Linked DNA regions of Homo sapiens. The protein of the gene in region 1 interacts with the protein of each later gene in a biochemical or structural test. Each region holds a gene or a part of one and is shown in the gene's direction. Other genes may lie near its edges. The genes, in order: RBL2, USP4, TOP1, PHB1, RINT1, SKP2 and RAF1.

What was found.
Region 2: the proteins of RBL2 (region 1) and USP4 form a complex in vitro, tested with the Homo sapiens proteins (one study listed by BioGRID).
Region 3: the proteins of RBL2 (region 1) and TOP1 interact in a test that uses a peptide from one of them, tested with the Homo sapiens proteins (one study listed by BioGRID).
Region 4: the proteins of RBL2 (region 1) and PHB1 form a complex in vitro, tested with the Homo sapiens proteins (one study listed by BioGRID).
Region 5: the proteins of RBL2 (region 1) and RINT1 form a complex in vitro, tested with the Homo sapiens proteins (one study listed by BioGRID).
Region 6: of the proteins of RBL2 (region 1) and SKP2, one has a biochemical effect on the other in vitro, tested with the Homo sapiens proteins (one study listed by BioGRID).
Region 7: the proteins of RBL2 (region 1) and RAF1 form a complex in vitro, tested with the Homo sapiens proteins (one study listed by BioGRID).

What each region holds. Positions count from the first base shown.
Region 1 is NC_000016.10:53,465,471-53,468,970, forward strand, and holds part of RBL2 (retinoblastoma-like protein 2), read left to right. Parts: coding exon 1-132; intron 133-1,587; coding exon 1,588-1,699; intron 1,700-3,500. UniProt on the Homo sapiens protein: Key regulator of entry into cell division. Directly involved in heterochromatin formation by maintaining overall chromatin structure and, in particular, that of constitutive heterochromatin by stabilizing histone methylation.
Region 2 is NC_000003.12:49,333,554-49,337,053, reverse strand, and holds part of USP4 (ubiquitin carboxyl-terminal hydrolase 4), read left to right. Parts: intron 1-1,457; coding exon 1,458-1,585; intron 1,586-3,500.
Region 3 is NC_000020.11:41,098,322-41,101,821, forward strand, and holds part of TOP1 (DNA topoisomerase 1), read left to right. Parts: coding exon 1-16; exon of another isoform or gene 17-503; intron 504-1,734; coding exon 1,735-1,922; intron 1,923-2,336; exon of another isoform or gene 2,337-2,471; intron 2,472-2,850; exon of another isoform or gene 2,851-2,887; coding exon 2,888-3,032; intron 3,033-3,500. UniProt on the Homo sapiens protein: Releases the supercoiling and torsional tension of DNA introduced during the DNA replication and transcription by transiently cleaving and rejoining one strand of the DNA duplex.
Region 4 is NC_000017.11:49,408,383-49,411,882, reverse strand, and holds part of PHB1 (prohibitin 1), read left to right. Parts: intron 1-43; coding exon 44-205; intron 206-2,409; coding exon 2,410-2,552; intron 2,553-2,724; coding exon 2,725-2,841; intron 2,842-3,500.
Region 5 is NC_000007.14:105,545,701-105,549,200, forward strand, and holds part of RINT1 (RAD50-interacting protein 1), read left to right. Parts: intron 1-1,209; coding exon 1,210-1,383; intron 1,384-1,483; coding exon 1,484-1,633; intron 1,634-2,848; exon of another isoform or gene 2,849-2,853; coding exon 2,854-3,010; intron 3,011-3,128; exon of another isoform or gene 3,129-3,267; intron 3,268-3,500. UniProt on the Homo sapiens protein: Involved in regulation of membrane traffic between the Golgi and the endoplasmic reticulum (ER); the function is proposed to depend on its association in the NRZ complex which is believed to play a role in SNARE assembly at the ER.
Region 6 is NC_000005.10:36,162,111-36,165,610, forward strand, and holds part of SKP2 (S-phase kinase-associated protein 2), read left to right. Parts: intron 1-1,534; coding exon 1,535-1,646; intron 1,647-3,500. UniProt on the Homo sapiens protein: Substrate recognition component of a SCF (SKP1-CUL1-F-box protein) E3 ubiquitin-protein ligase complex which mediates the ubiquitination and subsequent proteasomal degradation of target proteins involved in cell cycle progression, signal transduction and transcription.
Region 7 is NC_000003.12:12,605,118-12,608,617, reverse strand, and holds part of RAF1 (RAF proto-oncogene serine/threonine-protein kinase), read left to right. Parts: intron 1-2,318; coding exon 2,319-2,417; intron 2,418-3,500. UniProt on the Homo sapiens protein: Serine/threonine-protein kinase that acts as a regulatory link between the membrane-associated Ras GTPases and the MAPK/ERK cascade, and this critical regulatory link functions as a switch determining cell fate decisions including proliferation, differentiation, apoptosis, survival and oncogenic transformation.

The sequences.
Region 1 (3,500 bases):
CTTTGTAGAGAGGTGGTAAAACACCTTAATCAGATTGAAGAACAGATCTTAGATCATTTGGCATGGAAACCAGAGTCTCCACTCTGGGAAAAAATTAGAGACAATGAAAACAGAGTTCCTACATGTGAAGAGGTTTGTGAAAATAACATCTTTTTATGAGAAAAATACATCAATATCTAATCTATTAATAATCCTTTTGGGGATGGGAGGGTGGCAATTAGGTTTAATATGTTATAATTACACCTTGTTATGAGAAAAATCTTGGACTGTAACGTCCCTCTCTACCCACAAATTGGGAAGGTGCCAAGAGACCAAAGAATGACTCAGACAAGTCCAGCTTGGTAAGTAGATAACGTTTATTAAGACTTACATATGGAGGAGGCAGAGGTGGTGGGGAAAAATAAAAGACTTATATACAGGGTACTCCTAGGTAGCAGCAGGACAGCTCTAGAGATCCTCGCCACCTCCCATCGCTAAGCTGCTTTTAAGCTAATTTTCTGGCTCTTTGCCTACTATGTGTGTGCACGATGGGACTGTTTTCCTTGGTAGTTTCTCAGATCTTCTCTGGGATGTTGGGGTTCTCAGGGACACCTGTTCCTTGGCTGGGCACCATGGCCTTGGCTCACTGCCTAGCCTTCAGGGTTTAGGCAGCAGACATACACCCTTAAGTAAGGTAGGTGACCTGTCACATTTCACCCCATGTCAAAGAGGAAACGAGTCAGATAATTTGTGGTTGTCCTAAGATTTTGGTGACAGAGTAAAAATTCAGTGTTCTTTCTTGATTTCCTTACCAAGTTTCTTTCCCATAGAGCAGTGGTCCAACCTTTTTGGCACCAAGGACCAGTTTCATGGAAGACAATTTTTCCATGGACAGGGTTGGGGGTTGGAGAGATTTTGGGATGATTCAACTGCCTTACATTTATTGCACACTTTATTTCTATTATTATTACGTGGTAATATATAATGAAATAATTATACAACTCACCAAAATGTAGAGTCAGTGGGAGCCCTGAGCTTGTTTTCCTGCAACTAGATGGTCCCATCTGGGGGCGGTGGGAGACAGTGACAGATCAGCAGGCATTAGATTCTCATAAGGAGCATGCAACCTAGATCCCTTATGTGTGCAGTTCACAATAGGGTTCACACTCCTGTGAGAATCTAATGCCACCACTAATCTGACAGGAGGCCAGCACAGGCGGCAATGTGAGCGATGGGGAGCAGCTTTAAATACAGATGAAGCTTTGCTCGCATGCTCACTTGCCTGCTGCTCACCTCCTGCTATGTTGCCCAGTTCCTAACAGGGTCCATGGCCCAGGGGTTGGGGACTCCTGCTTTAGAGTGGTTGATATTCAAACTCTCCAAACCAGTAATGAAGTTTGACTCATATTTAGTATCCAATTACAAGGTTTTGAATTTTTTGACTGCCAAAAGTTTTTTTTTTAACTTTATTATTAAAATGGGAAAGACAGCTGATTTTATTTAGATGGAATAATTGTTAAGATACTTTTTCTGCCTTAGATTACTATTGTATTTGTAATTAAAGTGCTTTTTTGGATACTGGCATTCTGTGTAACCAATTCTTCATAGGTCATGCCACCTCAGAACCTGGAAAGGGCAGATGAAATTTGCATTGCTGGCTCCCCTTTGACTCCCAGAAGGGTGACTGAAGTTCGTGCTGATACTGGAGGACTTGGAAGGAGTAAGTTTAAAATACTAGGAGAATATTTTGGGGCTTACTATCTGGAAATTTAAATTTCATCTAACCCTACAAGTGAAGTTAATAGGGTATACATAGAAGAAAATATTCTATGCATTTTTGTACCACATGGATCACTTAAAAGAAGGGCCTTTAAAGACTAAGAACACAGGAAAATGCATGATATAACAGGTATCTTTTAAAAAGGATAGACTGCTTTATTTATTTATTTATTTATTGAGACAGAGTCTTGCTCTGTCACTCAAGCTGGAGTGCAGTGGCCCAATCTCAGCTCACTGCAACCTCTGCCTGCCGGGTTCAAGCGATTCTCATGCCTCAGCCTCCTGAGTAGCTGGGACTACAGGCATGCGCCACCACGCCTAGCTAATTTTTGTATTTTTAGTAGAGAAGGGGTTTTGCCATATTGGCCAGGCTGGCCTTGAACTCCTGACCTCAAGTGATCCGCCTACCTCGTTCTCCCAAAGTGCTGGAATTACAGGCATGAGGCACCGTGCCCGGCTGACTGCTGTATATTTAATATGATCCCTATTTTTAAAGTGTATGTTTATTTATGAGCATACAAAATAGTGGAAATGGAAAAACCAAACTGTTAAGATCATTGTTGGGTGATAGAATTCCTGGTGATTTCTGTAAAATTTTTAAGGCAAATACATATTACTTTTAAAATCAGAAATAGAAAAGCCTTCTTAAAGATAGAGCTGCATGATCCAGTTAGGTATAGACAAGCCAGTGAGTTAAGACAACTGAGTATGTTCCACTTTGTTGAGCTGTGCTACCCTAGTTAATGTGACATTAGTGCTGGCCCAAGAAATACAGAAAAGGGCAGTTTTGCTATCTATCTGGTTTGTATTTTTTAGGCAGCTGCTTAGAAGATCTGCAAGGTGAAAGGTTTTAGTTTACATATGTGAGATAGAACTACTTTTTTAAAGAGCAATTCAGTAAATCCAGAGAGTTCTAAATCCTTGGATCCAATTAAAAGAATATTCTTATTTCTAGATCAGTTTTATAATGTAATTGATAAGAACTGGCTATAGAAGGAATACCAGTTTTAAAGTCAGGATTCACTCTAGGCTGGGCATGGTGGCTCATGCCTGTAATCCCAGCACTGTGGGAGACCTAGTGGGGAGGATCACTTGAGCCCCGGAGTTCAAGACCATCCTGGGCAACATAGCAAGATACCATCTCTACCCCCAACCCCCCCAAAAAAATCACTCTAAGTGTATACTTAATACACATGGATGATCCTTATGAAAAGTCCTCATTTTTGAAAGATCTGACAGCTGGTCTTTCTTAGTCTATTTTTGTAGAATTTTCCGTTCCCTAATCTACAGATTAGGAAGACTTGACTTTAAACTTCATTTTCTTTGTACTTACCACTTCTCAGTTTTCCTGAGATCTCTTGATATTTTATAAGAAAAAATGATCATAATCTATTCTTTCTGATTCTGCAGCTTTGTACCAAATACAAATCTAGTAAGTTTATTTACTTTTGTATCATCTGGAAATAGAAATGTTAAGCCACAGTTTGTTAGGATTTACTCCTATCAGTACTTCTTACAAACTTTCTATGTATATTTTAAATTTTAAAAACACTCTGATGCACAGCTCTTAGAAGTGGACACAGAAGAAGGAAGAAATGCTTCTCAAAAATTCAGACATTGGTGTGAATACTTAAAAATAGACTAAGCCATAATGGGTTGTGTACCACTGAATCATACACTTAAAAATGGTTGAATGGTAAATTTTATGTTATATATATAACCACAATTTTAAAAAACTAGCC
Region 2 (3,500 bases), on another chromosome or scaffold:
CTCGGCCTCTCAAAGTGCTGGGATTACAGGTGTGAGCCACTGCGCCTGGCCTTGTGTGTACATTTTTGGAACTCCTTTGGTCCTTAAAGGAAAACTGAAGTGGGTGGTGTTTCTAACCCATTTTCAGAAAGAGCATTAGTTTAGTGCTGTTCATGTCAAGCAAAACAGTGTAACCAAACTGTCTGCCTGGAGTGGGACTTCTGTAAAGATCATTATGAAATTAATGACTTGTGGCCGGGTGCGGTGGCTCACGCCTGTAATCACAGCACTTTGGGAGGCCGAGGTGGGCAGATTACCTGAGGTAGGGAGTTTGAGACTGTCCTGACCAACATGGAGAAACCCTGTCTCTACTAAAAATACAAAATTAGCCAGGTGTGGTGGCACACACCTGTAATCCCAGCTACGGGAGACTGAGGCAGGAGAATCACTTGAACCCGGGAGGCGGAGGTTGCGGAGAGCCGAGATCACACCATTGCACTCCAGCCTGGGTAACAAGAGCGAAACTCTGTCTCAAAAAAAAAAGAAGTTAATGACTTGTTTATTAGCAAACATGATTTTACCCATGAAAAGACTCCATTTAGACTGAGTGTGGTAGCTCATGCATGTAATCACAGCACTTTGGGAGGCCAAGGCAGGAGGATCACCTGAGATCAGGAGTTCGAGACCAGCCTGGCCAACATGGTGAAACTCCATCTCTACTAAAAATACAAAAAAATTAGCTGGGCCTGGTGATGCATGCCTGTAATCCCAGCTACTTGGGAGGCTGAGGCAGGAGAATTGCTTGAACCCAGGAGGTGGAGGTTGTAGTGAGCCAAGATCATACCACTGCACTCCAGCTTGGGCAACAAGAGCGAAAACTCCGTCTCAAAAAAAAAAAAAAAAAAAAAAGAGGCCAGGTGCAGTGGCTCATGCCTGTAATCCCAGCACTTTGGGAGGCCGAAGTAGGCGGATCACCTGAGGTCAGGAGTTTGAGACCAGCCTGCCCAACATGGTGAAACCCCGTCTCTACTAAAAATACAAAAATTAGCTGGGAGTGGTGACAGGTGCCTGTAATCCCAGTTAGTCAGGAGGCTGAGGCAGGAGAATCGCTTGAACCTGGGAGGCAGAGGTTGCAGTGAGCCAAGATTGTGTCACTATACTCCAGCCTGGGCGACAGAACAAGACTCCGTCTAAAAGAAAAAAAAAGAAAGACTGCATTTAAATAAGCATTTTGAAACCACTTGTTTTCTTTCTTTTATTCACTCTTTGAACAATCATTTCACTTAATGGATGCATACCCTGGGCCAGACTCTCTGTGCCATGTGGGGCCTGGGCCCTGCTCTTGCTCTTGTGACAGTGTTTTTTAGTGGGTATTGCATATGCCCCAAGTGGAAGGACCATAAAAAAGATTAAGGAAGCAGCTGCAGAAATTTATAATCTCAGCTTTTCTGCTACAGTAAATTTCTGTCTCTCTCTAGGTATCTTATTGACAGCCGGTGGTTCAAGCAGTGGAAGAAGTATGTGGGCTTTGACAGCTGGGACATGTACAATGTGGGTGAACATAACCTATTTCCTGGCCCAATAGACAACTCTGGGCTATTTTCAGGTATAGTAAATGTTGCTTTTCTAGCTAAACATTCACCTGGGCAGTGGCCTGATGTTATGTGCATCTGTAACATGGACGTTGTGAACTTTCCTAGTGTGAGGAGATAGAAACAAGTATCCTCATTTTGCATCTATAGCAGAAGTCTTTGCAAACCCTTAATGAGAAGTTAAGCTACTTTTTTCCCTTAAATTAACTGCATCTGATAAGAGTATGCTTCTAACATTTTAACTTTCTCTCTTTGCAAATTAGTTCTGCTAGCTATTTCACATTTTAAGTTAGTATATGGAATGGAAAGAAATAGGATGTCATTTTGAAATTGTATCTAAAATTTAAGAACCAGAATTTTTTGTTACCTTTGCAGTGGAACAAATTGTAAACCTGTGAACTTTCATCAAGAATTCCTGTGATGGCTGTTTTTATCATATAACTAGTGTGAGGAGAGGTTGAAGGTCAGTAGACAGAGTTATGACTGTAGTCAGCTCCCAATGGGAACTGTGGGAAAAGCGACATGTAACACACTAGAGCTTGCTTGCACTTGTACATGCACTGAGATGACAGAGTCAGCTTTTCCCAGGCTTTCTTTTGCCTGACTTCAGACCTCTTTAAAGTCATGATAGAGGTGATCTGTCATGGGTGTCAAAAATCAGGGCAGTGCCAGGAGTGGTGTCTCACGCCTGTAATCTCAGCACTTTGGGAGGCCAAGGCAGGTGGATCACCTGAGGTCAGGAGTTCGAGACCAGCCTGGCCAACATGGTGAAACCCCGTCTCTACCATGTTGGCTAGGCTGGCCTTGAGCTCCTGGGCTCAAGCTATCTTCCTGCCTCAGCCTCCTTAGTCACTGAGACTACAGTGTTCTACCACTCTCAGCTGTTTTTTAAGTTTTTTGGTAGAGACGGGGTCTTGCTATGTTGCCCAGGCTGGTTGAACTCCTGGCCTCAAGCCATCCTCCCACCTTGGCTTCCCAGAGTGTTGGTGTGAGCCACTGTGCCTGGCCTAACTTGGATATTTTTAAAACTGAGCAATGCTTCAGCTCAGACCTTGTTTTAGGAGAGGTCTACATGGTATAAACAATATCATTTACTTTGTTTCCTGAAATAGGTCAAATGGTGGCACTATGCCACGAAGTTGCCCTAAGGAATCATTTCATTATGTTCACATTTTGTTCTTTTTCTCATTTTTATGAAATGGAGAATTCTTAAGGTTTTAAATTCAGGCATACTTTGGCTTATTGTGCTTTGCTTTATTATATGTTGCAGATACTGCATTTTTAGCAAATTTTGTAGGTATTTGGCAACGCTGCCTTGACAATCTGTCAGTTCCATTTTTACAACAGCATGTGCTCACTTCATGTCTCTGTTACCACATTTTGGTAATTCTCAAAATACTTCAAAGTTTTTCATTATTATTTGTTATGGTGATCAGTGATCAGGGAGCTTTCTTTTTTTTTTTGAGACGGAGTTTTGCTCTTGTTGCCCAGGCAGGAGTGCAGTGGCATGATCGTGGCTCATGGCAACCTCCACCTCTTGGGTTCAAGTGATTCTCCTGCCTCAGCCTCCCGAGTAGCTAGGATTACAGGCATGTGCCACCACGCCCGGCTAATTTTGTATTTTTAGTAGAGATGGGGTTTCTCCATGTTGGTCAGGCTGGTCTTGAACTCCCGACCTCAGCCTCCCAAAGTGCTGGGATTACAGGCATGAGCCACCATGCCCAGCCAACAGGGATCTTTCATGTTGCTATTGTAATTGTTTTGGGGCATCATGAAGGGAGCCCATGTAAGACAGTGAACTTAATTGGTAATTATTGTGTGTATTCTCGCTGCTTCACCAACCAGCCATTCCATCTCTCTCTCTCTCCTCAGGCTTTGCTATTGCCTGAGACACAATGACACTGAAATTCGGCCACTTAGTAACCCTAA
Region 3 (3,500 bases), on another chromosome or scaffold:
CAAGGAAGAGAAACTGGTACTACAGAATTTATTAAACCTCTGGAGAATTCTGGAATTGTGATTGGTTCATTTAACTTTCTTCTTGGTTCTTATGACACAACATTAACATCAGTAATTTCACATCATTCTATGCTAAAGACTTAGAGTTCTCAAAGTCTAAATTTTCTTAAAGGTTTTAGTTAGACTGAAAATTGTGAACAAGTACTTTGCTCAGTAGCTCTGTACAGGAATCTTGGTGCTTCAGTGACCTAAAAACCAGTCAGTAACTCCAGCCAATAATATAGTAATTAAGGATGGGCAGACCTGTCCCACAGTGGCTACTGGATATTAAGGATTTAAGACAGATGAAATCATATTGGCCATGTACCTCCCTGCTCTTTGATCTATTTTACTCTGGAATCTTGTGATGCTCATCCATCTCCATCTTCCAGCCTTGGCCATCCTCATTACTGAAGGATCTTTCTGGTATCCAGCTGGGATGTCATTTTTCTTCTACAGGCTGCCTGTTTTTGTAAAAAAAAAAAAAAAAAATTTATTGGAACCAGCTGCCTCTACTTGTCTACATATTATCTACGGCTGTGTTTATGCAACAATGACAGAGATGAGTAGTTGCAAAAGAGAGTAGTTGCAAAAGAGACTGTGTGGCACTCAAGCCTAAAATATTTTCTATCTAGAAAAAGTTGTCAGCCCCTGAACTAAAGGAATCCAGGCTAGAATTTCATTTTTACCAATCGGAAGTCCAGAAGTTAAGGATTTTAAGGAATTCTTTGCACTTCAAATTCCTGTAGTTTCAGTATTTTAAAGGACTTGCGTGTTTACGTAATTCAGACCATTGTATTGATATAACTCATTGTTTCATGGTACTTATTTGGTCACTAGTTTAAAAATTAATGCATTACTATAAGAATGTTAATTGCATCAGACTTTGTGTCTCAGGTAAATCTTATCCTCAATATTCCAAGTTAGTGAAATTTAGTATATTATTTACTTCAGGGGCATTTTGAAACTTAAAAGATCACTTTGGAGCTTTGTTCTTAGAATATTGATCCAAAGATAGATTTTATAAACATCCCCTTGTCAGAGCCTCTGCCAAGGACACCTGCTGCCAGCAAGGTCTGAATCTGTTCCCACCCACAAGGCAGCACAACTTAGTTAAACTGAATCAATAAGTATATAAAACGCAGAGTCAATAGAGGGTAAGGAGGCTCAAAATCTCCCCCACCATCCCTCACCTTTTTGGAGCAAGGATCATAGTATAGAGTGTATATACCTGTATACCTACAAAAAAATTAGTGACAGATCTGTCTGAGCTTAAAAACCCACGTTTTTAAGCTGTTTAACTGCTGTTTAATTAAATGGCTTGAGCTATTCTTTTATGAGGCTCTATCAGAGACTCTTCTCCATTTCCTGTTTTGATAGTACTCAGTAAAACAGTATGAATTTTTAAAGTACATTTAAAAACACCCAAATAACATTTACAAACATATATCCTTTAAGACACAAGAATCAGTTTTGAATCTAGTTGAAATCAATCCTTATAGGCAGATCTTTTTGGGGAATTTTATGATATTTAAGTTTGAGAAAACCACTAGAGGTTTTCCTTTATTTGAATTTATTTTTTAGTGATTTTTCAGACTTTCCTCTACCTTGACTTAGTCTCCCACAAGAGATAAAATGCATTAGTAGAGAACAGCAATCTGAATCTATTTTGAGTACTTTCTTGCTGTCTTCCAGAAAATCAAAGAGGAGAATGAAAAATTACTGAAAGAATATGGATTCTGTATTATGGATAACCACAAAGAGAGGATTGCTAACTTCAAGATAGAGCCTCCTGGACTTTTCCGTGGCCGCGGCAACCACCCCAAGATGGGCATGCTGAAGAGACGAATCATGCCCGAGGATATAATCATCAACTGTAGCAAGTGAGCTCGCACTTCATCCTATGGGCCAAAAAGGGGGTGGAGGGCGTCCTTTATTGTACTTGGGAATATTTCCCAGGTTACACAGGACTGTTTGGGAAGGGAGATACTTAAGAGCAGGACAGTATTTCATGCGTAGGTCTCCAGATGTTTTTGAGGTACAGTTGTCTCCCCTCATCCACAGGGGATATGTTCCAAGACCCCCAGTGGATGCCTGCAACTTCGACCCAATTGCTGTCACTTGGAACACATTTCTGTTGATGTCTTCCACCCCCAAATTTAATGTCTTTTCCATGTTTATTAAGTACTTATCACATAGAGTGGCTATAACTTTTGCAGTCTGAGGCACAACAGCAAAACTAGCACGACTTTCTTTTTCCTTCTTCACAATTTCACAGATGGAAGGTTAATTCTTACCTTAGATCTTAGCAACTTCACCATACAGTTTTTTTTATTAAGTCGATAATTTCCACCTTTTCATTTAAAGCACTCTGTGCAGCTTCTGTATGGCATATCCAAATTGCCAACATCACCACTTTCACACTTTGGGGCCTTTATTAAGTAAAAGAAGGATTACTTGAACACAAGCAATGTAAAACCATTAAAGTCAACCTGATAAATAAGGCAGCTACTAGGTTACCCATGGGCAAGTGACATATACAGCATGGTATGTTGTATATATGGTTCACGCATCCCAGGTGGGACTACAAGAGATTTCATCATGCTCCTCAGAATGATGTGCAATTTAAAACTTACAAAATGTTTATTTCTGGAATTTTGTATTGAATATTTTCGGATGACAGTTGGCTGAGGGTAAGTAAAACCATGCATAAGGTGGGACTACTGTATTGACTGTTAAGAAGGAAACTTGGAAAATTATGCTCAGCAGATAGGTCCACTTGGGGTCATGAAAGGTGAAATTATTCCTCACATCTTATTTCACTATCCTCGTGCTCTGTTATTTCCAGAGATGCCAAGGTTCCTTCTCCTCCTCCAGGACATAAGTGGAAAGAAGTCCGGCATGATAACAAGGTTACTTGGCTGGTTTCCTGGACAGAGAACATCCAAGGTTCCATTAAATACATCATGCTTAACCCTAGTTCACGAATCAAGGTAAGGGGATAGTTGAGAGCTGCACTGGTTCATGGTGCTGATAACCTTTTTTTGTTGAAATGTAACGTTCTCGTCCTCTAGAATCACTTTGACAAATTAAAAATCCTCCCCATTGAAAGAAGGCAAGTACTTTCATAGTTAGCATTATGGTGATCTTCCTACAGTGCCTCCATTTTTTTGGTCACATTGTAATCTTATTTATTAATTCACAAATATTTACTGAAATCCCAAATGTGCCCCACACAGTATACATTTGATGCTAGGAATTATGTTGGTAAACAAGATAGACGTAGGCCCTGCCTTCATATTGCTTAACGTCCAGTGGTCAGAATGTGTTGAAGTATGGTGATTGTATATTGGCCTCTGCAGATGTCTTCTACTTCCTCACCTCTCTTGGTTATGAGAAGGGAATGTAGTTTCTGTATATCCTGAAACAAGTTGTAAAATCTAATGTCTTACATACTTCTG
Region 4 (3,500 bases), on another chromosome or scaffold:
GATGAGAGGATTTTTATGACATGTCATTGTCCTTTCTTCCTAGTGGATGCTGGGCACAGAGCTGTCATCTTTGACCGATTCCGTGGAGTGCAGGACATTGTGGTAGGGGAAGGGACTCATTTTCTCATCCCGTGGGTACAGAAACCAATTATCTTTGACTGCCGTTCTCGACCACGTAATGTGCCAGTCATCACTGGTAGCAAAGGTGAGTCTTGCCTATGGTTCAGGTAAAGTAGGGAGTGTGGAAGAGGTGCTCTGTTCTTCTGTGTCACAGGAGCATCTGTGGGATACCAGGATCCAAAAGAGTTTGAACTGTACATCATAGGAATGACTAGACTACTTGCCCTGGAGAGCTTGATATGGAATCTTAGAAATACCCACTTATGGCTGGGTGCGGTGGTTCATGCCTGTAATCCCAGCACTTTGGGAGGCTGAGGCAGGTGGATCACCTGAGGTCAGGAGTTCAAGACCAGCCTGGCCAATGTGGTGAAACCCCATCTCTCCTAAAAATACAAAAATTAGCCGGTGGTGGGGGGTGCCTGTAATCCCAGCTACTTGAGAGGCTGAGGCAGGAGAATTGCTTGAGCCTGGGGGGCGGAGGTTGCAGTGAGCTAAGATTGTGCCACTTCACTGCAGCCTGGGCAACAGAGTGAGACTCTGTCTCAAAAAAAAAAAAAAAAAAAGCCTGCTTCTAATCTTCCCATCTCTTTGGAATTTCTTTCCGTACTGTTTTGCAGTTGTTTTCAGGATACATTATGTACCTATTTCTAAAACTATTGATAGGAGCTTCCAGAGATCAGGGAGTTGTAGGTATTAATACATTGCCCACCTCTCTTGGTGCCCAGTTCAGGGCTGTCTCATGGGCGCTTGGTCCATATTGTTGACATCTGTAAGCAAGCCGTGACAGTGCTTTGGCTCCAGGCAGGCCTGAATTGTCCAGGGGAAAGTATAATTCTCTCCCTGGATCCTTTAAATGGTCCAAGTAATGAGAAGCAGAACATAGGATCAGTCTGTTAACCCCTTATATGTGTTACACATTTGACAGAGTGCTTTTACGTCTGTTTTCTCCTTCAATTTTCCCCAACATTTCCGCAAGGCCCAGAAAGCAAATGAAATTGTCCCCATTCTCATAGACAGGGAAATAAGCTCAGGTTGGCTAAGGCTTAGAGAGGCCACATCATTAGTAAATAGCCCAGATCTTTGGACTGATAGTCTAACACCGTTTCCACCAGACCCGAACTAACCTCTCCAAGGCTGACTCCTGACTTGGCCACAATCACCAGAGCATGTAAAGGCCTCACCCTACAATTCTTAGCATTGCCCTGTCTATTGTCTTAAAATGTTCAGTGTTGCAAACTTTGCATGGCACCTGTTAGACATATAATCTGAATTATGTATATCTGAGGGCATTCAGGGGATACCAAAAAGCTGCTATCACTGAAGCCTCTTAAGAAATTATAAACTCTTTATGATGCTCTATTGGGTTCTCTGCCAAGGAAACCAGGCATACCTGCACCTTGCCCTCTGGGATCTTATAATCAGCAGATTTGCTTATAAATTGTAGCAAATTTGGAGCCAGGCACAGTGGTGCGTGTCAGCTACTCAAGAGGCTGAGGCAGGAGAAATGCTTAAGCTCAGGAGCTTGAGTCTAGCCTGGGCCACATAGCAAGACCTTGTCTCTAAAAATAAAAAATAAAAATTGCCAGGCGTAATGGCTCACACCTGTAATTCTAGCATTTTGGGAGGCTGAGGCAGTTGGATCACTTGAGCCCAGGAGTTTGAGACCAGCCTGGGAAATATGGCGAAACCCCAGCTCTACAAAAAGTACAGAGATTAGCTGGGCGTGGTGGTCTGTGCCTGTGTAGTCCCAGCTACTTGGAAGGTGTAGGTGGGAGGATCAACTGAGCCCAGGAGGTCAAAGCGGCTACAGTGAGCTGTGATCTTACCACTGCACTTCAGCCTGGGCAACATGTGACCCTGTCTCAAAATACATAAATAAAAATTGTAGCAAATTGGAGTAGGAGAGGTCATATAAAAGACCACTTGTGGCCAGGTGCGGTGGCTCACACCTGTAATCCCAGCACTTTGGGAGGCTGAGGCAGGTAGATCACCTGAGGTCAGGAGTTTGAGACCAGCCTAACATGGTGACACCCTGTCTCTACTAAAAATACAAAACAGCTGGGTGTGGCGGCGCGTGCCTGTAATCCCAGCTACTCAGGAGGCTGAGGCAGGAGAATTGCTTGAATCTGGGAGGCAGAGGTTGTAGTGAGCCGAGATTGTCCCATTGTACTCCAGCCTAGGCAACAAGAGCAAAAACCTGTCTCAAAAAAAAAAAAAAACAAAAAAAAAACACTTGTTTTCCTACAGTGGTTTTTATTTTTAACTCCAGTGTTTGTCCCCTACCCTAAGATTTACAGAATGTCAACATCACACTGCGCATCCTCTTCCGGCCTGTCGCCAGCCAGCTTCCTCGCATCTTCACCAGCATCGGAGAGGACTATGATGAGCGTGTGCTGCCGTCCATCACAACTGAGATCCTCAAGTCAGTGGTGGTGAGTGAACAGGGGCCTTTAGCCTCGAGCCCAGAGCACCACCCTGGGAGGGTGCCAGGTGGCAGGAAGCGCTTGGCAGTGGGTTGGTTGGGATGTGGCTGCTAGTTTCCTGGTTCCTTTTCTGCTTCCTCATTAACCTGACCTGCCCTTCTGCTCCTCCCTTTGAAACCAGGCTCGCTTTGATGCTGGAGAACTAATCACCCAGAGAGAGCTGGTCTCCAGGCAGGTGAGCGACGACCTTACAGAGCGAGCCGCCACCTTTGGGCTCATCCTGGATGACGTGTCCTTGGTAAGATCCTTCGGGAGACCGAGGAGGGGAAGGGGCTGCAGTTCTCGTTTAGGTGCCTGGCTCCATTTCTGGGTAGACGCTATTAGGTCCTCCCTTCTGCTTTGCTAGATGTGAGACTTGAAAACACGGAAACATGCTGAGGTGAGGCAGTCTCCGTGGGTTTTTCAGTTGAGGGTTCTTTTACCTTCCCCCTGCCACACACATTTTTCTTATGACCTCTGGTTGTATCCAGATAGTCTCTAACCACTAAATGTTTTACCTTCTCCAAACTGTTACCCAGAGAGTGATGCCTTGTTAACCCTGTTTGACACAGGCAGAAACTGCCTGGTAGAGACCAGAGAACAGCTCGGGTAGTCCTTCTCCCTAGCACAGACCTCCCAGCCTGACTCCTGGGAGCTTCCTAACACTTTACAGTCCGAAGCTCAGTGAAGTAAGCTCTGGGAACCCCAGTGAAAGGTGATAGAGTGTAAACGAACGGTTGGATTCCCCCAGGCCTGGTATAGGGGGCAAGGGACATCTCTGAGGCGTAAGCTATCCTCTTGAGACACTATAGCTTGTGTGTTTATATGACATTGGATGTCATAACTCAGAAAGCAATGCAGGCAGGATAGCGTTTCAGGTTGAGGAGGGTGAGGGGAAGGGGTCGTGTTTCTAGATTC
Region 5 (3,500 bases), on another chromosome or scaffold:
TTTTTAGTAGAGACGGGAAGGGTTTCACCAAGTTGGCCAGGCTGGTCTCGAACTCCTGACCTCCGGTGATCCACCCATGTTGGCCTCCCAAAGAGGCCACCACGCCTGGCCTCTTTTTCTTTGAGACGGAGTCTCACTCTGTTGCCAGGCTAGAGTGCAGTGGCATGATCTTGGCTCACTGCAACCTCCGCCTCCCGGGTTCAAGCAGTTCTCCTGCCTCAGCCTCCCGAGTAGCTGGGATTACAGGTGCCCACCACCATGCCTGGCTAGTTTTTATATTTTTAGTAGAGATGGGGGATGGGGAAGGGGGGGCGGGGGGCGTTTCACCAAGTTGGCCAGGCTGGTCTCAAACTCCTGACCTCCGGAGATCCACCCATGTTGGCCTCCCAAAGTGCTGGGATTACAGGGTTGAGCCACCAAGCCCCGCCTGGAATTATATTTCTTTGAAGTGGGAAATCAAGTTCAGCTGGGCAAAGTATGTAACAATTGAAGACCATCATACTTGACTTTACCAGATACTACCACATTATTCCCTTGGATTAAGATACTGAAGACTTTGTAAAAGGCAGATTTATCAGAAATGAGTGGTGCCCAAAGGAATATGACACAAAACAGGTCTGTCAGGAGGAGTAGGAAGGGAAAGGTCCCGGGAGAGGTCTTGAACATAGGCTGCAGGCTGCTGCTCTTAGAAGAATGCAGAAGTAGAGGACTCTAGGCTCCCAGAGAGGCCTTGGTAAAAGGCCTCAGGGTGGTGCTTTGTTAAAAAACAAAGGCTACCTCAGGGTGGTGCTTCATTCTTCCTTGGATGTAACTTTATATAAAACATGAAGAAGAAGCACTTTTTCCGAATTTGAAATTATTCTGAGCAATCCGTTCTTTAAATTTGCTTTCGGCTGGGCACGGTGACTCACGCCTCTAATCCCAGCACTTTGGGAGGCCGAGGCGGTCGGATCACTTGAGGTCAGGAGTTCAAGACCAGCTTGGCCAACATGGTGAAACCCTGTCTCTACTAAAAATACAAAAAATTTAGCCAGGCATGGGGGCGCATGCCTGTAATCCCAGCTACTGTGGAGGCTGAGGCGGGAGAATCACTTGAACCTGGGACACAGAATTTGCATTGAGCCAAATCATGCCACTGCACTCCAACCTGGGCAACAGAGTGAGACTCTGTCTCAAAAGAAAAAAAAATTTGCTTTACTTTGTTTACAGTGATAACATTCAGCAATATCTGATGACCAATAATGTACCGGAGGCAGCCTCCACTCTAGTGTCTATGGCAGAACTTGACATTAAACTTCAGGAATCATCTTGTACTCATCTTCTTGGTTTCATGAGAGCCACAGTTAAATTCTGGCATAAAATTCTCAAGGACAAGCTTACAAGGTAGGGAATTTACCCATATTTTGTGGTAATTGCTTTCCGATGGGTATTTGGTGATCATTTGGTGATGTACTGAAATGTATGTGTTACTTTTCCATTGCAGTGATTTTGAGGAAATTTTAGCACAGCTTCATTGGCCATTCATCGCACCCCCTCAATCACAAACTGTTGGCTTAAGTCGACCTGCCAGTGCCCCGGAGATATACAGTTACCTGGAGACACTGTTTTGTCAGCTTTTGAAACTACAAACCTCGTATCTTTGTTGCAGCTGAAAACTTACTAAAATTTCTTTTTTCTAGAATGGGTTTGTGGCTAGAGAGTAAAACTTTTTCAAAGTGGCCAAGAAAGCCAAATAAGAATCCTGTGTTTGGACTTGGTCTGTAAATGTCCACTGAGTGGTGGACTGTACTCTTGCAAAGTGAATTGCTTGTAGGTGTGAGGGCTGTAAGGAAGAGTTCCGGGATACATGACTGATCCAAGTTCATAGCACAAAAAGGTCTCTTGGGGCAACAGAACAAATGGGCAATTGGGAGGAAACCTTTAGTGTCATAGCGTGAATTTAATCAAATGATACTTGAATTTTTTTTGTTACTATTTTAGGAAAGATTTATAGATTAATTCTAATACCATTTTTGTGCTTTTTTTTTTTTTTTTTTGAGATGGAGTTTCGCTCTTGTTGCCCAGGCTGGAATGAAGTGGCGTGATCTCATGATCTCGGCTCACCACAGCCTCCACCTCCCGGGTTCAAGCGATTCTCCTGCCTCAGCCTCCCGAGTAGCTGGGATTACAGGCGTGCACCACTATGCCCAGCTAATTTTGTATTTTTAGTAGAGACGGGGTTTTTCCATGTTGGTCAGGCTGGCCTCGAACTCCTGACCTCAGGTGATCCACCCGCCTCAGCTTCCCAAAGTGCTGGGATTACAGGTGAGAGCCACTGCACCTGGCTCATTTTTGTGCTTTTTTTAAAGACATGGTCTCACTTTGTCACCCAGGCTGAAGTGCAGTGGTGCAGTCATGGCTCACTGCAGCCTTGACCACCCAGGCTCAGTTGATTCTCCCACCTCTTCTTCCTGTGTAGCTGGGACTACAGGCACGTGCCACCATGCCCCGCTAATTTTTGTTGTTTTTTGTAGAGATAGGGTTTTGCCGTATTGCCTAGGCACGTCTCAAATTCCTGTGAAGTGGCCCAAGTGATTAGCCTGCTTCAGCCTCCCAAAGTGCTGGGATTACAGGCATGATTCACTATCATCATGCCTGGCTTTTTGTGCATTTTAACTGAATGTATATTCAATATAAAGAATTAACTGTATGTTTATTCAATATAAAATTAGGTTACATATTATTTGCATCATAATTAACTCTACTGAGTATCTGATACATTTGTTGGAAAAATTTATTGTGTGTGTATACATACATATGTGTGTGTATATTAGGTATGCTTTTGATTCTTTTTCCTTGACTTGATTATGTCAGAGATGAATTACTTACTGAGCCAAAGCAACTCCCAGAAAAATACTCTCTTCCTGCCTCCCCTTCTGTCATCCTGCCCATCCAGGTTATGCTGACTCCTCTTCAGAAGAGGTTCAGGTATCACTTCAGAGGGAACCGGCAGACTAATGTGTTAAGCAAGGTGTGTTTTGCCAGCTCTTGTCCTTGGTTTTTATTGGTAACAAATGTTAGAGTTTCTATACCTTTGCTGGTTTAAGTTAAAATCTGACTCTCTTCACATTTCTGTTTTTTTTCTAAAGGGCTACATTCCTGTTTTGTTACTGCTGTTCATACATATAATTGAGGACTTGTGTTCATATACTGTAGGAAAAATGGTATTTCCGCTCTTGGGCATCAGATATTGCTGAGTTATCATTGCAAAACAAAGCAAAGCAAATAGTAAGCACTTGGTATTTCTTTTCTTTTTTTTTTTTTGTGAGTTGGAGTCTCGCTCTGTCACCCAGGCTGGAGTGCAGTGGCACAATCTCTGCTCACTGCAACCTCCACCTCCCAGGTTCAAGCGATTCTCCTGCCTCAGCCTCCCAAGTAGCTGGGACTACAGGCACATGTCACCACACTGGACTAATTTTTGTAATTTTAGTAGAGATGGGTTTCACCATATTGGTCAGGCT
Region 6 (3,500 bases), on another chromosome or scaffold:
CTTTTTGAACTTACGTGAGGGCCTGTCATTCCTGTGCTCAGAATCTTCTAGTGGTGCCTCATAGAATTCAGCGTCAAAGCCAAAGGCTTTATCATGACCTAGGAAGCCTGCATGACCTGGCTGCTCTCTGATTTTTCTACCCACCTACCTCTGCGCTCTACACTGGCCTCCTTGCTATGCCTCAAACACACATGCTGTTCCTTGGATCTAGAACACGTACACCAGATACTCACAGGGCTCACTCCCTCACTTTGTTCAAGCCTTTGCTTAGTGATCGTCATCTCAGTATGGCCTTCCCTGACCACCATGTTCAAACTTAATAACATCTGCTCTGAACTCTCTGTTCTCTCCCTTGCCCTGTTTAATTTTTCTGCACAGCACAGATCAATTTTACTATATCATATAATGTACTTATTTTTTGATGTGTGATTATCTGTTCCGCATTACTGGAATGAAGTCCCACGAAGGTAGTGTTTTGGGTCTGATTTACTACTCCTTCCCAACACCTAAAATGATACCTGGCACCATAGTAGGAGCTCAGTAAATATTTGTTGAATTAAGAAATGACAATACCCTTTTGTATTGCTCTTTTAGGTAAACTGTGCCTTTTGTAAACCTGAAAGAAAGCATATTAGTCTGTTCTCATGTTGTTAATAAAGACATACCCAAGACTGGGTAATTCATAAAGGAAAGAGGTTTAATTGACTCACAGTTCAGCCTGGCTGGGGAGGCCTCAGGAAACGTACAAGCTTGGTGGAAGGGGAAGCAAACGTCCTTCTCCACATGGCGGCATCAAGTGCAGAGCAAAGGGGTCGGGGAAGCCACTTGTAAAACCATAAGATCTTGTGGGAACTCACTTATCACCAGAACAGCATCAAATTACAGGGGCGGTTATCACCAGGTAACCGTCCCCATGATTTGATTACCTCCCACTGGGTCCCTCCCGCAACACATGGGGATTATGGGAACTACAATTCAAGATGAGATTTGGGTGGGGACACAGCCAACCATAGCAGAAAGGGAAGAAGATTTATTTGCCTTTTAAATAAGGTCACTACTGAGTCCACATCAGAGAGAAACAAGGCCTTCCTTTGCACCCAGAAGCACCACAATATCTTATTGATGTCAATGAATTGACAATGTCATTGAATGACATTTGAGAGGGTGGGACTTGCTCTGTACCACTCTTCATGCCACAGCCTCCGATTGGCTGGCTAGAGCTGAAGGGAAGAATAGGAAAAGTGTTCTGGGTTTCTCTTTTTGATTTGCTGAGAGAGTGTGGTGGTCACTTCAGGGTACATAGATGATGGAATGGGGAATTTAACACGAATTAAATTACTCATCACCACAATTATTTTTCTGTTCAACAGAAATGATTTTTCAAACAAAAATAATTGTGAGGATGAGTAATTTAATTTGTGCTAAATTCCTCATTTAAGCTAAATGTTGTATATTCTTTATGTGTTTGAAAAGACTCAGTAGACTTGATAGGGTGAAAGAATGGTGATGGCAAACACTTGTTTTCCCTCCAAAGGTGTTTCATGGGACTCCCTTCCGGATGAGCTGCTCTTGGGAATCTTTTCCTGTCTGTGCCTCCCTGAGCTGCTAAAGGTCTCTGGTGTTTGTAAGAGGTGGTATCGCCTAGCGTAAGTATTTTTCACCCCTTTGGCAAACGTAGGGGAGGAAGAGGAGAGGAAGGTTATTTATTCGTTTTGGTCTGATGAAACTAAAAACCAAGAAAAATAGAGCAGCGCAAAGCAAACTAGGTATCTTCATATTTTTATTAATCAGTGTCCTCATTTCACAGTGGAAGAGGAATTTCCTGGGAGGGATAAACTTACCAATGTCTGGAAACCTCTTTGCCCTGTATTCAGTGCAGCATGTGTTTATGGGATGCTGACTGTAGGCCAGGCGGTGTGCTTTAAGTGCGGAGAGAGTTACAGAGGTGCATGCAGACAGCGGTTCCTCACGCCGCTGGGCTGAGCAGTGAGCACAATAGGGAGAGGGAACACAGGCTTGGTGTTAGACCCGAGTGCACACCCAGCCTCTGCTGCTTACGCTCTGCATGACCTGAGTGAGTTAGTTGACACTGCTGAGCCTCAGTCTCCCCATATGTAAATGGGGATAATGGTTATGAGGAGGAAACCACTGGTTATGAGGATGAAATGTGAAGATGCTGGTGTAATGCCTGACTCACAGACATGTTCCACACAGAGTAGCCATTGGTGGGGTTGTGCTCTTTTTTTGGCAACACTTTTCAAGTGTGGAAGGTGAGTTGCATGTGGAAAGACTTGGTGAGCTGGAAAGGCAATAACAGGCCTGGAGCAAGAAAAAGGCTATGTTTATCAACTGGAACTTTTTACTATCTTCATGCCTTCTCATCCCTATCCTACCTCCTGGTCATTCTTTGCTTTGTGTTTAAAGGCCATCCGTCTGGCTTCTCCCTCCACATACTTAGAACTCCCTGTGTGAGATAGCAGGAGCCTCTTGCCTTCAAGGGCGTGCTGCTATTTACAGGTGTGGGTTGTTTGCTTAGAAGAGCCGCAGAGAGGGTTGCACACCTGGAATGCTGGTGCAAGTGGCAGGCAAGTTTCACTTACCCTCACCGCACTCAACCCCACTTTGGTTTTCTTTTTCTGCCAGCTATGCATTTATCCTCTTCTTGCAGAGTCTGTTAATCCCATTTTAAAATTTTATTGTATATATTTAAGGTATACAGCATGATATTTTGTTATAAGTATGTGAAATGGCTGCTATCATTAACATATTCATTATCTCACATAGTTACCTATTTTTTGTGGCAAAAGCACCTAAAATTTACTCTTTTAGCAAACATTCTGACTACAATACAGTATTATCGACTCTAGTTCTCCTGTTGTATACTATATCTTGGGATGTGTTCATCCTGCATATCTGTGGCTTTGTATTCTTTGACCTACATCTCCCTTAGAGTCTGTTAAACTTCATCTCAGTTGTCATAAAAGTAATTACTGACATTTATTAAGCACTTGCTTTGTGACAGGTGCAGTGTTTGCAATTTAATCCTCCATATGATTTTAAGTGATGGTGTTTGTGTCATCTCAGCTTCAGAGGTGAGGAAACTGCAGGGTCAGGAATAGTAGGTTGAGAGATAAGTGGAAAGGCAGGAATCTAAAGTTTGGCTAACTCCACGGTCTTAACCATCATACCATATCTAGTTATGCTTGGCTTAGGGTTCAGGTAGCTCCCAAATTCATTTTTCTGTGAGGTGTTCATCTTCCTAAAAAATGTATATTATTTGGAAAGAAAATGAATTGTTCCAAAACTTCTCCCAGGTTGTTGTTATTGAATGCTGGTTAAGCTATAGTTTGCCTTCTTGCAAGAGGAAACATCAAGCATGAGATTCAAGACAACCAGAGCAGTGCTGATCTGGTGTCAATACCAATACCTTGGAGGCCAAAATGGATTTCTGTCTGGGCAAGAAAGATACAAAAGTGTGCCACTCTCTTAAGGATATCTTA
Region 7 (3,500 bases), on another chromosome or scaffold:
ATTCTGAAACTAGCTAGGTTTGGTGGCATTCATACTCCAGAATGAGCAGGTAGGAGTAGGACTTGTTATCTGTCAAATTGAGATTGACATACTGTGACTGTGATTCAGTAAGGAAAGGAGCAAAAGGATATGAAAACAAGAAGATTTTTTGCTTTTCGCTCTTAATAGTATTATCTACTGGGGTTGCTAGTAGACACTGCTCTGTATTTTGTTGAATATGCTGAATGAGCCTTTGACATTGAGAAGGAGCAGAAAGCACCGTTGATGCTATTTTCTTCACTTCAAACTGGAGAAAACTTAGTTGTTTGGACTTAAAATTGTTTGAATATAAAATCTTGAAAGATTCTTGTTTCTTTCAGGAGACAATATATTTCATATAGATAAAATGTTATTAAAGAATTTAAAGTTTACATTAAAAGTACATGGTCCAAACTGCCTTTTAAAAACTGTAACTAGGTATATGAAAAGTTTAAAAGTTTTGTCCTTTTTTGACAGTACTAGAGAAACCAAGGGAGTGTTATTATTAGACCATGATGAAAATGTTTTTGCTTTCATGGTCACTTACGTATTGATTTTGTGATGAGAGCTTGAGTAGCACAAATGGCACAAGCTTTTAAAATTTATCTTATTTTTGTCCCCCACCCTTTTTTTTTTTTTTTTTTTTTTTTGGAGACAAGTCTCTTTCTGTCATTAGGCTGGAGTACAGTGGCATGATCTCGGCTCACTGCAACCTCTGCCTCCCAGGTTCAAGTGATTCTCCTGCCTCAGCCTCCCGAGTAGCTCAGACTACAGGCACACACCACCACGCCCAGCTAATTTTTGTAGTTTTAGTAGAGATGAGGTTTCACCATCTTGGCCAGGATGGTCTCGATCTCTTGACCTCATGATCTGCCCACCTCGGCCTCCCAAAGTGCTGGGATTACAGGCATGAGCCACCACGCCCAGCCTTTTTTTTTATTATTATTTTTTAAAGACAGGGTCTCGCTCTGTCTCCCACAGTGGAGTGCAGTGGCATGATCACAGCTCACTGTAGCCTCGACCTCTCGGGTTCAAGTAATCCTCCTACCTCAGCCTCCTGAGTAGCTGGGACTACAAGTGTATGCCATCATGCCTAGCTAATTTTTGTATTTTTTCTAGAGACGGGGTTTCAGCATGTTGCCCAGGCTGGTCTCGAACTCCTGAGCTCAAGCAATCTGTCCGCCTTGGCCTTCCAAAGTGTTGTGGTTACAGGTGTGAGCCACCGCATCCGGCGGCACAAGCTTTTGAGTCTAACAGACATATGTCAAAATCTCAGTGTTGTCATTAACCATAACCACATCTGAGTTTTCGTTCATGCATCTGAATAAAGGGGATATTACCTTCCTTGCATTGTTCTTATGAGGCTTGCTGACATAACCTGTGAAATTACTAAGCACAAGTGCCCACCTCATGGAAAAAAGGTGCCTAATTACTCACTTTTCTGTGATTTATTCCTTCTATTTTAGTCTTTTATCTATGCATTTTCAAGATGGAATGTTTCCAGAGAAGCTGTGTGTGACATAGTTTGTGAAATGTTATACTGTAGTTTGAAAAATATTATTTTGATATAGCTAGACACAGGACCAGTATTTCCTAGAAATGCACACTGGGCCGGGCGCGGTGGCTCACGCCTGTAATCCCAGCACTTTGGGAGGCCAAGGCAGGTGAATCACCTGAGGTCAGGAGTTCGAGACCAGCCTGGCCAACATAGTGAAACCCCGTCTCTGCTAAAAATACAAAAATTGGGGGAAGGGATAGCATTAGGAGAGACACCTAATGTTAAATGACAAGTTACTGGGTGCAGCACACCAACATGGCACATGTATACCTATGTAACAAACCTGCATGTTGTGCACATGTACCCTAAAACTTAAAGTATAATTAAAAAAAAAATACGAAAATTAGCTGGGCATGGTGGTGTGTGCCTGTAATCCCAGCTACTTGGGAGGCTGAGGCAGGAGAACCCGGGAGGTGGAGGTTGCAGTGAGCCGCCATTACACCTCTGCACTCCAGCCTGGGCAACAGAGTGAGACTCCATCTTAAAAAAAAAGAAAAAGAAAAAGCACACAGGAGCCTGTATGTTTATTGGCAGGTCAGTATTATTCACATTCAATAATCATTCAAATCCAGTTATTTGGAATATTGTTCCCTTTATTCTAGGTAATGTAAAACAGTTGAGGAAAATGTGACTGGGAAAAGTTCAGTTTTAGTAGCTCTGAGTTTGCAAAAGCAAGGCATGCTGATTGTCTCTGTAAGATTACTGCAAGCCTAAAAACCAGTCTTTCCCTGCTTTTGTTTAGATTGTTTCCAAATTCCACTATTGGTGATAGTGGAGTCCCAGCACTACCTTCTTTGACTATGCGTCGTATGCGAGAGTCTGTTTCCAGGATGCCTGTTAGGTAATTTTTTACCTATAGCTTTTCTTTTAGAAAGTTATTTGGGGTGGTGGGGTTGGAAGCTTGAAGACAAAAAATAAGAGTTTCTTCGCATTCCCTCCTCTCTACGTGGAAACCCCTTGCTGCTTCTGTGGAACTTGATACTGGTGGTACAGAAAAGGTAGAAATTTCTGTTTATGGACCTGTAGGTCTTACATTCTGGAAAGTGACTTTGACTGTAGCTTCTTCTGTTATCATAGCATATTTCTTAATATGTCATTACATTTTAAAGAGCTTGAGATTCTGCTTTCCTCAGTATGTACTGAGTTCAACCTCAATGGAAAGGGTCCTAAAACTTAATACAGTGATTTGATAAAAATAAAACCCTTAACTTTGAAATGCATGTTGTGGCCGATGCATTTGCTAAAACCATGTATTTAAATAGACTAGTGTCTTTAAAAACATTTAATTAGATTTTCAGCATAAATATTGTTTCTCATGTGTCTCTGAGTTTGCATATAACTTGTCTTTCTTTACTCTGTTTTCCAGCTTTATAATCAGTTTTGTTGCGTTTATCTACTGCTCAGTGTTAACACACATGAATTTGAAACCTAAAGTAAAATCTACATCCAAAATATCTTACTTTAGGCCAGGCACGGTAGCTCACACCTGTAATCCCAGCACTTTGGGAGGCCGAGGCAGATGGACCACTTGAGGTCAGGAGTTCCAGACTAGCCTGGCCAACATGGTGAAACCCCATCTCTACTAAAAATACAAAAAACTGGGTGGGTGTGGTGATATGTGCCTTTTGGCCCAGGTACTTGGGAGGCTGAAGCAGGAGAATCTTGAACGTGGTAGGCAGTGAGCTGAGATGGCACCACTGCACTCCAGCCTTGGTGACAGAGCAAGACTCTGTCTCCAAAAAAAAATATATTATGTATACACACACACACACACACACACACACACACACATAATGTGTAATCAGATAATGTTTAATGTGAAAATACTATGGAAATATTAAACGCAGCATATCTTAGAATAAGGAATTTGCATATATCTGGATATATATTTCTGTATGGCTTTTATTTTTCTTGATAATTTGAA